2 separate regions of the Homo sapiens genome follow, and region 1 is linked to region 2. Evidence: fine-mapped expression QTL. A gene starts in region 2. The other region holds a variant in brackets. All regions are shown on one strand. Distances are from middle to middle.

The links. PIP is the estimated chance that this variant, and not a neighbour inherited with it, causes the effect.
Region 1: its variant is the best candidate, but not a certain one, in a credible set for the expression of LGALS3BP in whole blood (INTERVAL, PIP 0.57).

What each region holds. Positions count from the first base shown.
Region 1 is chr17:79,038,756-79,044,122 of GRCh38, forward strand. It overlaps C1QTNF1 (C1q and TNF related 1), which reads left to right. Exons shown (of 4, transcript NM_030968.5): 2 at 5,200-5,367. The coding sequence starts at 5,214. Among named protein-coding and RNA genes, the nearest start is that of C1QTNF1-AS1, 14 kb to the left of the region's middle. RefSeq lists an enhancer at 5,210-5,367. The variant C/T (reference allele first, on the strand shown) is at 2,704.
Region 2 is chr17:78,977,244-78,982,610 of GRCh38, forward strand. It overlaps LGALS3BP (galectin 3 binding protein), which reads right to left and starts at 2,680. Exons shown (of 6, transcript NM_005567.4): 1 at 2,581-2,680. RefSeq lists an enhancer at 2,714-3,706.

The DNA.
Region 1 (5,367 bases), 62 kb after region 2:
TTTTGCTGGAAATCACTAACAGTGATCTGGAGCCAAGTTTGGTTAGATGTTGGGCAATACTGTCTTTGCCCAAAAGTGACTAAAATGATCATCATGTTATGACGCTGGCTTTGCTGTGGGATTTGGTAAAATGCTTCTTAAGATCTTTTCAGGAAGGAAAGATTTCAACCTGGGTTTGCTCTGACTCCGAACAGCAGGCTTTTGAGGAGAGCCACCACCGCCAAAGTGGCCTTGTCCCTACCAGCCTGAGCCTGGGGCTCTCTGCTGGGGTTTCCCAGCCCCACCCCACCCCAGTGACAGCATCGTTCCTAACCCAGCTGCATCCTGGACCCCGTCTCTTCTGACCAAGGTGTGGAAAATCCCTTTGCTAGACTAGAAAGAGATAGACCAACATAAAAACAAATGCTGGTGCTTAGCTAGGGGCAATTTTGCCCCTGAGGAACAGGCATATTACCATGTTTGGAGACATTTTTTGTTGTCATAACTAGAGGTAGTGGTGCTAATGGCATCTGGTGGGGACAGTCCAGGGTTACTGCTAAGCATCCTACAGCACACAGGCTAGCCCCCCACCACAGGGGATTATCTAGGCCCAAACCTCAATGGTGCCAGGGTTGGCTGGCGCGGTGGCAAACGCCCGTAATCCCAGCACTTTGGGAGGCCGAGGCAGATGGATCACCTGAGGTCAGGAGTAGTTCAAGACCAGCCTGGCCAACATGGCGAAACCCTGTCTCTACTAAAAATACAAAAATTAGCCGGGTGTGGAGGCACACGCATATAATCTCAGTTACTAGGGAGACTGAGGCAGGAGAATAACTTGAACCTGGGAGGCGGAGGTTGCAGTGAGCCAAGATCGCGCCACTTCACTCCAGCCTGGGTGACAGAGCGAGACTCTGTCTCAAAATAAAATAAAACAAAAAAACCCAGCAATCCTTCAATGGTGCCAGGGTTGAGAAACCACAGAGTAGAATAATCCAAGGTAGCTTTTTAATGCGTTTTGTAGTTACTTTCCAACCTCTCTTAAATAAATATGTGTGTGTGTGTGTATATATATATATATGTAAATATGTATATATGTATATATATGTAAACATGTGTATGTGTATATATAAAATTTGGGATTCAGGAAAAAAATATTTAAAGAAAGGAAAATCTCTTTTCCTTTTAACTGGTACAAGTTTGCCACTTAAAAGGAAAAAACAGAATAATTATTAAGGCACCAAGGAGAAACAGAGGAAATACAGAAATGGAGAAATAAACAAATTTAGAGAATTCAGTCTGACAAATATTTGCTGAGCACCAGTGATTCAGGGTGCTGCAGGATGCTTGGCTAGGGGACGTCCCAGCCCTGGAGGAGGTCACCCACGGTCTGCTGAGTAGACTCTCATAGGCTAGACAAACTCTCTGCAGTAGGAGACAATAGGAAAAATAAAATTATGGCGCCCACCTATAATCCCAGTACTTTGGGAGGCCAAGGCAGGTGAATTGCTTGAGCTCAGGAGTTTGAGACGAGCCGGGGAAACACGGTGAAACCGTGTCTTTACGAAAAAACAACAAAAAAATTTAGCTGGGCGTGGTGGCGCATGCCTGTAGTCCCAGCTGCTTGAGAGGTTGAGGTGGGCAGATGGCCTGAGCCGGGAGGGTTGAGGCTACAGGGAGGCAGAGTGAGACCCTGTATCAAAAAAGAAAACTAAGACCGAGGATGGAGAATTTTTCCCAGTTGAGGGGCCTGGGAAGGCTTCAGGAAGACTATGAGACCTTGAGTTGGGTGTTGAAGACAAGGCGGGCAGGATTTTATTGTCATCTGTTGTCAGCCTGTCTGAGTCCAAATGCAGCCCCCCTGCTCAAAAATCAGTCTTGGCCCGGCGTGGAGGATCACGCCTGTAATCCCAGCACTTTGGGAGGCTGAGGTGGGCAGATCACTTGAGCCCGGGAGTTTGAGACCAGCCTGGGCAACATGGTGAAAATTTGTCTCTACAAAAAAAAAAAAAAAAAAAAAAAATTAGCTGGGTGTGGTAGTGCATACCTGCAGTCCCTTCTACTTGTGAGGCTGAGGTGGGAGGATGGCTCAAGTCCAGGAGGCAGAGGCTGCAGTGAGCCGAGATTGCACCACTGCACTCACTCACAGAGTGAGATCCTGTCAAAAAAAAAAATCAGAATTTTAGGCTAATTAGCTTCTCCAAGTCTCTGTTTTCTCATTTACATATCTGCTACAGTCATGAATGTATATTGTCTCCCTAGAGGATTGTGGGGCCATCCGTGATGGGATAAAAATTATTAATGAGGAAATGTTCTCAAACCTAACTAGACGGATAGCTGGAGAGAGAACTTAGATGTGTATTTTATAAATTACCATGTGCACATACACCCTTTTTTTGGCAAGTGGTGGGAGGTATCAGAGATTCTGGGTGGGGGCTGTGGCCTAAGCAGCTCCTTGGTCATTGGGACGGTCTCTGGGCCCTGACGCATGGGAGGGACAGCTGGCTGGTAGGACACTTGGAGGTGGGGGCTCCAGCTAAGCCACTGCAGAGATGGGGCGTGGGCCATGCAAGGTGGTGAAGACTGGGTGTAGGTATGTGTGACAGGGGAGGAGAGAGGTTCGGGGGGGCCAGCCTTGCTCTCCTCACTGTCACCTCGGAGGCTCTATCGGGAGAGCCCTGGACTCCAGATCTTCCCCTGCAATGTTGACTTGGCGTGAGGGCTCTG[C/T]GGGGAGCCCTTCAGACTTCACTCAAGAGCCCACTAAAGTCCTGGGCCGTGGCTCACGCCTGGAATCCCAGCACCTCGGGAGGCCGAGGTGGGTGGATCACTTGAGGTCAGAAGTTCCAGACCAGCCTGGCCAACGTGGTGAAACCCCGTCTCTACTAAAAATACAAAAATTAGCTGGGCGTGGTGGCGCATGCTTGTAATCCCAGCTGCTTGGGAGGCTGAGGCAGGAGAATCACTTGAACCTAGGAGGCGGAGTGAGCCGAGATCACACTGCTGCACTCCAGCCTGGGTGACAGAGCAAGACTCCATCTCAAAAAAAAAAAAAAAAAGCCCGCTACAGACATCCCCCGCAGAGGCTCCAAAGCCCCCGAGCGACGGTGTGTGTGGAAGAAATTCCCGGCTTCCCAAGATGAGTAAGACGTCGCGGTCATCTTGGTGTGTAATATGGGCAGAGAAAGAAATCTGTCAGGATTTTAACTTTCCTTAGACATAAGAGGAGTTAGAGGAGAAAGAGTCTGGCCCAGGGCCTTTGGAGATGAGCCCTTGCTTTCACTGTTTGCCTCTCAAGAAAGAGCTGGAGTCCACGCCGGCCTGGCAGCCAGGAGTGAGGGACGCTTCTCACCCACCTTCTCACTGGGCGGCTGTGTGTTGAATGAGGTGTTCCCACGGGGCCTGCGACATTTCGAGTTTTACATTTTGGTGAACAAAGAGGGGTTAGAGTTGACCACAGTCGCTGTGCCCCTCGGTGGGGAGGTTTTCGGCCCACCTGAAACGGCTGGGCCTGCGACTCCTGATGCCAGATTCCTGGGCGAGGGGAGCAAGCCGCTCACAGGGTGGCAGGTGGGCGTTCGCCTAATGTGGGCCCAAGTGCCGCCCCTCGCGGGCTCCCTGGACTCCCCACCTCCGTGAGCACCCCTTTCTAGAAGGACTGTCCCAATACTGGATGGAGGGGGTCCTGCCCCAAGCTTTTGCCAAAAGCTCTGGGAGTGAGACGTGGGGTTGGCTTCCTGGAAGGATGACTGCTCTGTGGGGCTGGGCTTGGCACATCCCTAAAGTAGATGCCAAGGACACCTGCTGATGCGCCGCCTGGTGGCCAGAAAGCAGCTTGCAGCCACCTTCCTACCCACCTACCCACCGGTGAAGGACCTGGTCATTGAGCCAGCTTTGCTTTGAGTTAAGGGATGATGATCATTCAAAGCTTGCTTGGGATTTTTCTTACTGTCCTAAGAGGGGTGGTATACAATTGTCTGTGGGGCCAGCGGCTGATGGACTCTCCTTCCCGAGAGGCTGGGTGGGCAGAGACAGCACCTTGCTCAGCAACCCCTCAACACCAGCCTGACTGGCTGAGGCTCTGGGGGCAGAGTGTGTGCGCACATGTGAAGGTGTGTGTACATGTGAGCGCATGTGTGCATGAGTGGATGTGCATGCATGTGAATGTGTTGAGAGTATGCGGGCGTGCACGTGAGTGTGCATGTGATGTGGGTATATGTGTGCATGTTAATGTGTGCACGTGTGTTGAAAGTGTGCATGTGTGGATTGCATGTATGCGAATGTGCATGTGTGTGGATTGCATGTATATGAATGTGTGTGCATGTGTGGGTTGCATGTGTGTGTGGGTTGCATGTGTGTATGTGTGTGCATGTGTGCATGGATTGCATGTATGTGAATGTGTGTGCATGTTGGATTGCATGTGAGTGCATGTGATGGTATATGTGTGTGAGTGCATGTAAAAGTGTGCATGTGTGTGGATTGCATGTGTGTGTGAATCTGTGTGCATGTGATATGGGTATATGTATGCATGTGTGTGCATGTGTGTTGAGAGTGTGCATGTGATTTGGGTATGTGTGCATGTGAGTTGTGCATGTGTGTTGAGTGCATGTGAGCATGTGGATTGCATGTGTGAGTGCATGTGTGTGGACTGTGTATGTGCATGTATGTGCATGTGAGTGTGAGTGTATGTGTGTTGACTGTGTGCATGTGAGCGTGTGGATTCCATGTGTGTTAAGAGTGTGCATATGGGTGCGTGGATTGCATGAGTGTGCATGTGATGTGGGTATATGTATGCATGTGTGTAGGTTTCATTGTTGAGACTGTGCATGTGTATTGTGTGTACATGTGTGTGGATTACATGTGTGTGGATTGCATGTGTGTTGGGTGCATGTGAATGTGTGGGTTGCATGTGAGTGTATGTGACTGTGTGTGCATGTGTGGATTGCATGTGTGTTGAGTGTGTGCATGTGTGGGGGTTGCATGTATGTGAATGTGTGTGCATGTGCGTGTGTGCACGTGAGTGCGTCGTGAGTGCGTGTATGCATGCATGGGTGTGTGAGAGTGATTGTCCTCCCAGAAGCTGTGTAACTGCAGCATTTCCCAGTGGCGTGAGGCTGGGGAAGCACCTCCGATTTCCAGGCTGTTTCTCTCCCCAATTTTCAGGCTGTTTCTCTGTGCAGCTCCTTCCTAACTCGGTGCCTTCCCTGTGTGTTTCTTTCCCACCAGGGCCCGGCAGGAAGATGGGCTCCCGTGGACAGGGACTCTTGCTGGCGTACTGCCTGCTCCTTGCCTTTGCCTCTGGCCTGGTCCTGAGTCGTGTGCCCCATGTCCAGGGGGAACAGCAGGAGTGGGAGGGGACTGAGGAGCTGCCGTCGCCTCCGGACCATGCCGAGA
Region 2 (5,367 bases):
CACGGGAGCCAGATGGCCCGAGGCCCCAGGGACTGGCCTGCCCATTCACCCTTCAGCCCAACCTGGGCTGTGTGGCAGGCGGGGTCCCTCTCTTGCAGAGCCCACTATGATCCCAGTAAGTGTGACGTGTGCTGTGGATGCCCCCGCGGGGGCCCCTCACCTGGTCTGCAGTGTGGTCCTGGAAGGATGTGTAACACTTGGCTAGATGAAGCGTGGGCTGGGGGCACCCCCTGGCAGTAAGGGCAGCAAGAATTGGTGACTAGAGGCAAGTGAGCTCATCTCAAAAAACCAGGCCCCGGGCAAGGCTGCCACACGGGCATGGGCGGGGAGATGGAGGAGGCCACAGGCGTGGGCCCAGGTCGGGAGGCCGGGTGAGCCTGGTTAAGATCTCGGCCTTAAGCTTCAGGCAACAGACCCCTGCAGGGACTGTCCCAGAGGGTCTCAGCAGGCAGAGACGAGGCTGCAGCCTGGAGAGTGGATGGGAGGGGACTCGTCAGGAGAGGGCACAGAATCCGGGCGAGGGGTGACAGAGATAAGTGGCAGGGAGATATATCGGGGCTCCGTGGTGTTCCGATGGGGAAGATAGATGAAAAGGGTCAGGGCTGCAGCCCAGGGTGGGCCAGGCTGGGGGAAGAACAGGGAGGAAATGCTGAAGTATCCCCAAGACACTGACACTCAGGCCAGGACTGGGGAGGTCCGGGTCTCCACCTTCTGGCCTGGTGTTCTTGCCTCCGTGTAATTTCCACGCTTTTGTCTTCGTCTGCCTCCCTCCCCCACACCCTGCCAATGGAGAGACAGTTATGGTTTCTCTGGCTCGGTAAGAATCCTGTGATACCTGACACTGTCCCCTCAGTTCAGCAAGCCTGGGGCAGGCCTCTGGGTGGCACTGCTGTGGGCACCGGCTGGGAGTCTGGGCCTGGTGACCTTGAGGCTGCTTGGAGGGGGCCTGGTGGACGGCTGCAATGGCATCCCCAGAGCTTGTCGGAAATGCAGTCATGGCTGGCCTTGCCCTAGCCCCTCTGCATGGGAGTCTGCATGAACAAGCGCCCTGGGAGCTGGGTGCACTGGCTGGTGAGCAGCTTTGCTCTGGGACTCGTGCTCGCTGGCACTGTGCAGCCACCCCTTGTCGGGGCTCCCCGGGCACCACTGGAGGCCTTACCGTGACCCTGAGAACCACCTTAGTTACACCTCACCTTACAAGTGAATGAGCTGACACCCAGAGAGGCAAATGGGCTCCACATCCACAGTCAGTGAGCCACAGGCAGGGGGTCTGCTCGGGGGAGCCCACCTCTCCTCCCTGTGTCAATGTCAGTAGATGGCTAAAGGGGCCAGGGTGTGACCGCCTGTCCTGTGTGCTGGGGACTGTGCTGGTTTTAGCACTGAAGTTTCCCTGTGTCCTGGGAAACCCCTCAGTCCCAGGCACGCCGGTATGGGTGGACGCCCTCTCCACTTCTGCCCCCAGCCACTTCACTCTGCTGCAGCCACTAGGTTTGTCCGTCCTGGGAGAGTAACTCAGGGCCTTGGAAAAATGGCCAACTGGCCAGGCGCGATGGCTCACGCCTGTAATCCCAGAACTTTGGGAGGCTGGGGCAGGTGGATCACTTGAGGTCAGGAGTTCAAGACCAGCCTGGCCAACATGGTGAAACCCCGGCTCTACTAAAAATACAAAATAATAATAATAATAAGCTGGGCATGGTGGTGTGCACCTGTAGTCCCAGCTACTCAGGAGGCTGAGGCAACAGAATTGCTTGAATCCGGCAGGCAGAGATTGTAGTGAGCCGCTGCACTCCAGCCTGGGTGACAGAGCAAGACTCTGTCTCAAAAAAAAAAGGGGGGGGGGCAACGAAGCACCTGGCAGGTGGCGTCGCTGCCCTTTGTGTGGCAGCGGCTATTTTTGCCTGATTCCTTCATACAGTTGAGACCCGGCTGCCTGTGTTGGCCCCTTCGTGCAAATCAGAAAAAAAGGTGCTCTTCCTTGGAGTGGGTGCAGGCCTAGGCCAAATGCACAGGTCTGAGAGAGGGCCAAGCTGAATTCTAACCCACTTGCCCTTTGGCTGGTATCCTTGTGCAGTGAGTAATCTGCCCAACTGTACACAGAGGCCCTGTGGGCCTGGGAGCAGCAATGATTGTTGCTGGACTCAGGAGCCCTGGATCCCCAGCTCCAGGCCTATGTGCAAACAGGGAGGCATGACCCCCACTTGCCTGTGTAGAGAGAGGGGTGCCCTGGCCGGGCGCGGTGGCTCACACCTGTAATCCCTACACTTTGGGAGGCCGAGGCGGGTGGATCACCAGAGGTCAGGAGTTTGAGACCAGCCTGGCCAAGATGGCGAAACCCTGTCTCTACTAAAAATACAAAAATTAGCTGGGCGTGGTGGCACGCGCCTGTAATCCCAGCTACTTGGGAGGCCGAGGCAGGAGAATCGTTTGAACCCAGGAGGCAGAGGCTGCAGTGAGCGGACATTGCATCACTGTACTCCAGCCTGGGTGACAGAGTGAGACCCTGTCTCAAAAAAAATAAAAATAAAAAAGAGAGAGAGACTGAGAGGGGTGCCCACCTGAGAGCTAGAGGCAGGAGCTTACCTGGCTGCGGTAGCTGCAACGGCCGTGTGGAGCCTCCTCGCTTCCAGCCACAGGATCCCTCTGCAGACTGGTCCTTTGACCCAGAAGCCTCTCCCAGTATGGAGCGTGGTCAGGCTGATCCCAGGAAATGCTTCAGAAAAGAGTCTACTTTCGATTTCCAGAAACCACCTGACATAGATGTCTTCCGGGATTGGCTGCTGCTGATACTCCCCAGGGCCCCTCTCTTTTGTCTCAGCTCTGCCTGTGGCTATCAGTGCCAGGCTGGCAGAGGCCCAAGGTGGGAGTCTGGCTGGAGCAAGGCCTGCAAGAGGACTAACAGCCACACTCAGTTGGAAAGGCCGCCAGGCTGGTCAGGGGCTGGCGTTTGGTGGACGGGAGGGGAAGAAGCAGAGGCTCTGGGCCCAGACAGTCTGCACCTGGTGGTGTGGCTGTGGACTCTGACAGAGCGCTCCGAGTCTTTTCCTGGGTCTAGCACGTTGCTGGCTGGGTGAACACCACACAGGGGGCTGCTTATGTGCAAATCCACCCTCTCTGTGCTCTTGGCATGCTGACCACACAGAGGGCCTGTGCCCCACAAGGTTGCATGGCACTGTCCCCTGTCCCCAGGGGAGGGAGGCACTGAGAACCAGGTATGCAGCTGGCCAGTGGAGGAGCTGGACCCTGCTCCAACACCTGACCCCAGAGCCTGTGCTCGCCACTGCTGGACCTGTGGCCACTCTCCTACTGTCTCCCCCTCAGCGGGGCGGGGGACAGAGCCTCTCTGGGTGACATAATGGCTCTGTCCAGCTCATACCCATTCCCTTTCCTCCCACTGAAAGCCGGCACCTCAACTGTCCCTTGGGGAGCACCCCCTCCCATTCCCGGCTGTGTGGTTCCCAGAGGGCCCCCAGCTCTTGGCCTTCAACCACCCAAGGCCTGGCTGTCTGAGCCCTGCGGGGGCCCCGGGCCACACTGCTGGTTTCAGGGTGGGGCTGTGAGCCCAGCCAGCCGGTGAGAGCCAGCTTCTGACTGAGAGGATGTGGGCCCAGGCTGCTGGGGCCGGTGGGGCAGAGCAGAGGGAAGCAGGCATCCTCCGGCCTGAGCTCCTGGGTCCAGCTGGCCTAATCCATGGTCAAGGCTGGGCTTCACCGCTCAGTGAGGCAATCAGCAGCCGCTCTTGTTTCTGTCACTTGCACCCCATGGTTCTGGATGAGCCTTGGGATGTGCCCAGGCCTCTGACCAGTGGTTCTCAGCCTGGGCTGGACAGAAGAATCATCAGGGAGTTTTACAAACTCCTAATGCCTAGACCCAGGAAGTCACCATCTCTGGGAGTAGGGGACAGGCAGGGGCATTTAAAAGCCCCCAGGCAGTCCCACTGGGTGGAAGGCCCTGGTTCCCTGGCAGCTTAGAGTCCGAGACAGCCAGCCCAGAGGTCAGACATTCAATGACTATTTCCTTCAAGGTGTGAGGTTTTAGGCAGCTGCACGGTTTGCCTAATCCCCTCCAGAGGAACTGTGAAGATCCAGGGGCAGGTGCAGCTGGAAATAGAACTGGCTGTGGGGAGTTTAAAAAAATCTCATCTGGATTAAGGGCCTGAGTGCACAGAAACCCCAGCATCATCCCTTCTCAGCAGTGCTAATGACTTCTGCCCAAGTGGCCAGGGAAGGACAGGAGTGCAGAGGACGGGAGGGCATCTCTGGGAAGTGCTGGGAAAGGTTTTAAAACTCAGGTGCCGAATCTTTAGCCCCAGAGTCCGGGAAAGTCCTAAGCCATCCAGGCAGGTAAAATGGAAAACCCAGAGGCCTCCTCGTGGAATCGGAGCACCAACATCTGCTCCCCTGGGGCTCGCAAGGCCTTTCCGGTGTGCGATGACCATGGGGTGGAGGGAAGCGCTGACAGGGGACAGGCAGGGGAAGGGGCAGCGGCTCGGCTCTGAGAAGACAGCTGGGTGAAAGCCTCAGATTCGTGTGGACAGAACTGCTGTCATCAGGAAGCCGCTCCCAAGACATGGTAGGGAAAGTGCGGGGCATTTCAGAGATGAGAATGGTTAACTGGCCTGTAAGGTCATCTTTTGTGCCTCTACCCCAAACCTCTCCGCAAATTGAGGAACGCTCCCTATAATAGCTAATATGGATTTCGCCAGGCATTACTATAAGCCTTGCCACAAATGAATGCATTTAATACTTCCAGCCATGATGGGAAGCAGCTGCTCTTATATTCCCTGTTACAGATGAGAAAACAGAGGCTCAGTGAGGCGACGTAATCGGCTAAAGTTGTGCAGCTGGTAGGGGAAGAACTGGGGTTTCAAACCCATCCTTTCCTTCTTTTTAAAAATTGGCTTTCTTGGCATATAATTTACGTGCAAAGTTTTGGCAAATGTGTAGCGATGGTATCATGACAACAATCATTACCTAGGGCGTTTCAATCACCCCTAAGAATTCTCTTATGCCCCTCTGCAGCCACCCCTCCCCCCAGCCCCTTCCCAGCAACCACCTCTCAGCTTCTGCCACTGCTGGTTGCCTTTCCTAGAATTCCCTCTATTTTGTCTTCTTTTTTAAGACACAGTCTCCCTCCATTGCCCAGGCTGGAGTGCAGTGGAACAATCTCGGCTCACTGCAATCTCTGCCTCTCAGGTCCAAGTGATTCTCCTGCCTCGGCCTCCCGAGTAGCTGGGATTACAGGTGCGCCCACCACCACGCCCAGCTAATTTTTGTATTTTTAGTAGAGAAGGGGTTTCTCCACATTGGCCAGGCTGGCCTCGAACCCCTGAACTCAGGTGATCCGCCTGCCTCTGCCTCCCAAAGTGCT